2 separate regions of the Homo sapiens genome follow, and region 2 is linked to region 1. The links come from fine-mapping of genetic effects on plasma protein levels. A gene starts in region 1. The other region holds a variant in brackets. All regions are shown on one strand. Distances are from middle to middle. Region 1 holds the start of PTGFRN (prostaglandin F2 receptor inhibitor). Region 2 overlaps PTGFRN (prostaglandin F2 receptor inhibitor).

The links. PIP is the posterior inclusion probability: the model's chance that the variant is causal. Sun 2018 read protein levels with aptamers (SomaScan).
Region 2: its variant is fine-mapped to the plasma level of the PTGFRN protein (Sun 2018, PIP 0.95).

Annotation. Positions count from the first base shown.
Region 1 is chr1:116,908,545-116,911,452 of GRCh38, forward strand. It overlaps PTGFRN (prostaglandin F2 receptor inhibitor), which reads left to right and starts at 1,372. Exons shown (of 9, transcript NM_020440.4): 1 at 1,372-1,708. The coding sequence starts at 1,660.
Region 2 is chr1:116,948,949-116,951,856 of GRCh38, forward strand. It overlaps PTGFRN (prostaglandin F2 receptor inhibitor), which reads left to right. Exons shown (of 9, transcript NM_020440.4): 4 at 244-624. Among named protein-coding and RNA genes, the nearest start is that of PTGFRN, 40 kb to the left of the region's middle. The variant CT/C (reference allele first, on the strand shown) is at 1,482.

The DNA of each region.
Region 1 (2,908 bases):
GGAGGTCAAGGCAGCAGTGATCCCTGATCGCACCACTGCACTCCGGCCTGGGTGACAGATCCTCATTTTGAGACCCTGTCTCAAAAATGAAAGAAAGAAAGAAGACAAAACAAATAAAAACTCCTGGCCTCAAGCAACACCATCCCTGCCCCCCGCCTCCCCCTGCCCCCCCAACCTCAGCCTTCTGAGTAGCTAGCATTACAAGTACCAGTTACCAGGCCTGGCAATTTTAAACATTTCTAAGTGTACCATTCAGTGGCATTAAGTACAATAACGTTGCACCACCAGGAATGAATTTTTAAGTCTCTTTCCAAAGATACCTGGCTAATCACACATTTGATAGTGGGGAAATAAGAAACATTTGTTGGTTGAAAGACGGATGCATGAGAGTAAAAGCAGTGTTCTTCCCCAGTGTGGGCAGTTTCCGCATAAGCATCTGCGATCCGTTTTGCATGTGAATGAAAGCCCAGTGACGGGCAGTGGGCACCAGTGCTGCTCCTTGCGTGTTTGAATCATGCTTGCTAAGTTTCAAGCAAGGAATGCTCCATTTCTCCCAACCAAGTCGGGCCTTTTGTATTCAAATCAAAAGCACAAAACTCTATTGTAGGGGGAAAAATGAGTCTTTATTGGCAATCAGTGGTGTCCACTTAGAGCAATAAATATTAAGTCTTAAGAGTACATTCTATATGAAGTACTATAGCTATTAATACACTTGGGTTTTGTTTGTTTTTTAAATGGGTGTCTTTGTGGGGTGCTGTTCTAATCAGTGCCACAGGCGCCGAGGAGAGGGAGGGAGCTGGGTAAGGAAGGAGACAGGCCCACCCTAGCCACCGGGGAGTGGGCAGAGTCAGGAGAGCGGGGTTCTGATTTTGCCCCTTCCCTGTGAATCCTTGGGCACCTCACCGAAACACTTAAGGCCTCTGTATGGTAGAGGTTGGAATCCGTGGCCTTTAAAAGTCCTTTCAGCTCCTTCGCTCCTATCTGCATAATTTTTGGCATAGGCCAAGCGGCTGGTTGGTGGGGTGTTTAGCTCAGGACGAGAGGCCGAACGAGCGGGGAGTTGGCTGAGGATAGACTAGACACGCGTGGGTGACTCCAGCGTGATGGAACGCGGGGTGTCCCGGGATAGGGCTAAAGCGATGGGATTTCCAGACGAGTCTTTCCCAGGCCAACTTTTAAAGGTCGGAGGAAAGTTTCTCGTGGGGTGGGGGCCCAGAGGGGATGGCAGGGTGGGCTCCGACGCCTCCTCGCCTTTAAGCGGGTGGCCCCGGCTCTTCCTCCGTTACCTGGAGCGGGGAGGGGCTTGGGAAAGTTTGTGTTTGTTGCTGGCAAAGCGCCGGATGGGAGGCGCGGGCGGGCGCTGCGGTTCTTCCCTTCTGCTTTCGGGAAGCGGTCGGGGCTGCACACTCGGATCGGCGGGGCCGGCTCCCGGGCCCGGCCGGCTGGAGGAGGGAGGGAAGGAGGCGGGAGGGAGCGAGCGGAGCCAGGGGCGCACGTACGCCCCAGCGCTGGGATTTATCGGCTCGCGAGGAGAGCGGAGCAGGCGCGCGGCCCAGGCGGAGGAGCGCCGACTCTGGAGCAGCCGGAGCTGGAAGAGGAGGAGGAGGAGAGGCGGCGGGGAAGGAGGAGGAGGGGGAGAGTCGCTCCCGCCGGGCGAGCATGGGGCGCCTGGCCTCGAGGCCGCTGCTGCTGGCGCTCCTGTCGTTGGGTGAGTGTGCGCGGGGCTCAGCGGGGCACACGGGGACTGGCGAGGCCCTGGAGGGCTCGGCGGGGCGCGGCTGCAGCGCGCGGCCTGGGGCGCCGAGGGTGCCCGGGCTGCTCCCGGGAAACCCGGCCGGGGTGCGCGGGTTGTTCGGCCCGGCGGGGAGCGGCCGCGGGGCCGCCCGGAGCCTGGCGCGAATCCGCTCGGGCCCCGCGCGCGGGGTGCAAGTGGCCGCTCCGCCAGGCCGAGCCTCGCCCCCAACATGTGCCGGGGGGAGTGGCCCGGGGCCGTCTTTCCCCCAGGTCTCCCTACCTGTTGGCCGCCGGGAGCCCGGCTCACCTTGAACTCCCGGCCCGGAAGGTGCTGCGGTCCCGGCCCGGGTCCTCGGCTCGAGAGCGGAAATGTGAGCCTTTGATATGCCCCGCCATAGCCGCCGCCGGCCGGGTCGCTCTTCACCCAACCCGCGCGGAGTTGCCTTTCCAGGGAAGCGAGAGAATCCTCCAACTTCCTTCCACGAAGGTCACAGGGTGGCCCGGAGCGTTACAATGGAAATCGGCGGGCGAGTCCTGCCGTCATTTTCGTCGTGGCTAGATCTTCTGCCTCAGTCTTTTCTTTTAGCTTTTCTTGAAGCTGCCTAGCTGCGTATTTATACACAAAGACCTAAAAGCCTGGCTTCTCCAACTTTTTCTACCTGTTACTTTCCCTCCCTTACTATCCCCTCGTCTTCCACCCTCCGGAAACCCTGGGTGCCCCGTGAGGTTTTGGCCCAGCGCCCTCCCCCCACCCAAGGAATCTTTTGTGGGTTTTTTCCCTCTCCATTTTCCATTCACTCCATACACAGACACCATCTTCACGTAGATCCACATGGTGATCCTAGCCAGCCACGGAAATATGTTTATTAAGTGCCCACCATGGTACCCCAGGGCCGACTCTTAAATGTTTTGATATTCTTGGATCCTTGTTGTCAGTGTCAACCAGGACAAGATGATTCCTGTGACCTGGCCTGGGGTTCTCTTCCAAGCCCCTAGAGAAGGCGGCTCTGAGTCTTTCACAGAGCGCATGATGTGCGGTGTCCGTGCCATTCAGGTCCCAGCTGCACACAGGGCAAATGATTACTCTGCACTTATGGTCAGAGGGTTCCAGAGGAGGCCTTCTATAGCTACTCCCCTGCTGGGGACACCGGGGCCCACACTGCTGTAACCCCCA
Region 2 (2,908 bases), 40 kb after region 1:
TGGCATATATAGCAGATATATGTAAATGTTTGCGGCTATTGTTGTTTTTATAAAATAAGAAGAAATGTGGTATGTTCTGTTAATTTATTCATTAAATATTTCTCAAGCACTTACAACTGTACAAAGCCTTCTAACTTTAATGCTGTAAATAAGAACTTAAAAGGAGATGCTTTAAAGAGGGTGGAGAATAGAAGGGGCAAACATAATCAGATTACCTAGATGTATTTGTTTTTAATTTTCAAGTTCTGCGAGCAGCTGTGCCCAAGAATGTGTCTGTGGCTGAAGGAAAGGAACTGGACCTGACCTGTAACATCACAACAGACCGAGCCGATGACGTCCGGCCCGAGGTGACGTGGTCCTTCAGCAGGATGCCTGACAGCACCCTACCTGGCTCCCGCGTGTTGGCGCGGCTTGACCGTGATTCCCTGGTGCACAGCTCGCCTCATGTTGCTTTGAGTCATGTGGATGCACGCTCCTACCATTTACTGGTTCGGGATGTTAGCAAAGAAAACTCTGGCTACTATTACTGCCACGTGTCCCTGTGGGCACCCGGACACAACAGGAGCTGGCACAAAGTGGCAGAGGCCGTGTCTTCCCCAGCTGGTGTGGGTGTGACCTGGCTAGGTGAGTGGTTTGGAGAATGACTCTTAACCTCTTCAGCTTAACCCCTCCTCGGAGTTATCTGAAGGAGTTATCTCAGGAGGCTCTGCGCTTTGCATGACTTCGACATTATTTCTATTGGTTCATGCATACTTTGGCCCAGATAGATCCCAAGCTGGGGATGAAATAGAATCTGGCAGACAAGGGAAATGTTTAGATAATGTGGCCTCAGTTGTCTCAATACCCTCATTTGAGAGTATATAGTTTCCTTTTGTTGTCGACATTTGCAGGGTCAGGGCACTGCTGAATGGCTCTTTGAAATGAATCTTTGTTGGAGGGAGAACACTGCCATTCTTCCTTTGTTTCTCTTAGACTCCTAGGTGCTCCCTGGCAGGAGCTGGTGCTTTTCCAAAGCCCAATGCAGAAAGATAATTCCTTCAGTTATTAGAAAGCATTTTTTTTTTCACGTCACGCCCTGGAATCCCACAATATATCTGTATATACCACTTACAACTAAAGGGCCCGCCTGCTTCTATAGGCTTGTTTTGTGGACGCTCTCACCCCAGGTGTAATTTCCCCAGTGGAGGAGCAGAGTAGCTCTCAAGTGTTGAGCACCTTGCCACCCATTTTATAACAACCTGCCGTATATGTGGAGATCTTTGGCATGTCCTCTTACTTTATACTAAGCTCCTTTTCCCCTACCTCTTTTTTCCCTAAATGTTTGCCCTCTGGGCAAAATGTACACTAACTTTTCCTAATTTTTGTTATGTCTTGTAATTGCAAGTAATCAAAGGAGGGATGGGGTCAAGCTGGGTGTGGAAAGCTTCGCTCCCCACCTCCATTATTACAGAGATGGGACAGGCCTTTCATCACATTCCCCC[CT/C]GTTTTGATCTCTCTACTGTCCGTGAGTGCCTGAGCCCTGATAAAGGCATTTGGCATTGCTCTGATTATTAGCAGGCAAAACAGATCTTTAAAGGCCAGGAAACCATTTCCTCCTTTGTCTGATTCTTCTGCTATGACCTCCAACTCATACTTATCTATTCCTTATCTCTGCATGGAAATCTTCTCTTGGGTTAGTGGCATATTCGCTCTCCTTTTTTTTTTCCTCCCCAGTAAGCCTTTATTTGGCAAAGATGGGGAGTTGGCCAGTGGAGACAGAGGGGGCAGGGAGAAGAAGAGCAATGAGAGTAAGCGGAAGGGACAATCCGATTCCGATGGAGACGAGGCAGGGTGTTCATCAGCCCTGTTAGCAAAGTAATCCTTTGATATCTGAAAAGTAAAAGAAGCGGGGTTTATCTGGCAAGCTTTTTATTCCTGCCGTCTGAACCCCATGCAAGAGAGTCACTATGAAGTACTGAACTGGAACAATGTTGGCCCAGCTAGAACTCTCCTTAGCAACCTTCAAAATAAAACAGATGTTGTCAGCACCAAAAGAAGATTTTTCATCTCTGGAGCTGAATTTGTCTCACAGCTCTGATCCTTAGTGTATTGTATGGTGCTGTCAAATCCCAGCACTGGCTCTCCGTACCCGCTCCCCCTTCAGCTTCTGAATCCCAACTCGAGGACTTTTTTTTTTTTAATTGAAAGTGCTGCTTGCACTCCAATTTGAGGCTTCTTTGAAGTACGTGTGCATTGATCCCGGCATACCCGGGGGGAGATGCAGGGACTGTCAGACAACAGGAGCGGAGCTCTAGGAGGAATGGGCTCCTTTAACTGGAAGGGATTTGTTGGTAGCTGTGTTCTCCAGAGAGTGAAAAGAAATAAAGAGACTAAATTGTGGAAAAGGCTCAGTTACTATCCAAAGGATCCCGTCATTTGTTTTCCTTTGGAGTGCTACTACCATTGTGAAAGTCATCAGTGTGCTTTTCCTGACTGATGCTAACAGATACAGAACCTGCACCTTCCCTGCTGCTTTGCATGTAATAAGCACTCAATAAATATTAGCTGAACGGGTAAATAAACCAGTACCCACACATGGATTTTGTTAAAATATGTGCATAGGAAAGCTAGAATTGCTAAGAAAGCAGTAATGTTCAACTCCTAGGATATTCAGAGATATTTGCCCCTGAGTAAACCTAACGAAAGAGCGAGTAGTATGAAAAACAATTGCATTCTTTTTTTTTTCTTCCTCTTAAGACTTCTCCTCCTTCCCTGTGCCTATGACTCAGACCATTACAGCTGCTTGGACACTTGTCAGGAGCGGGTAGGGCATGAGCATAGCAGCAGACCCTTCTCAAAGACTTCCCCGCTGGACTCTGTCCAGAAGCCAGTGAGCCTGGCCTGACACTCCATGGTTGTCTCTAGATAT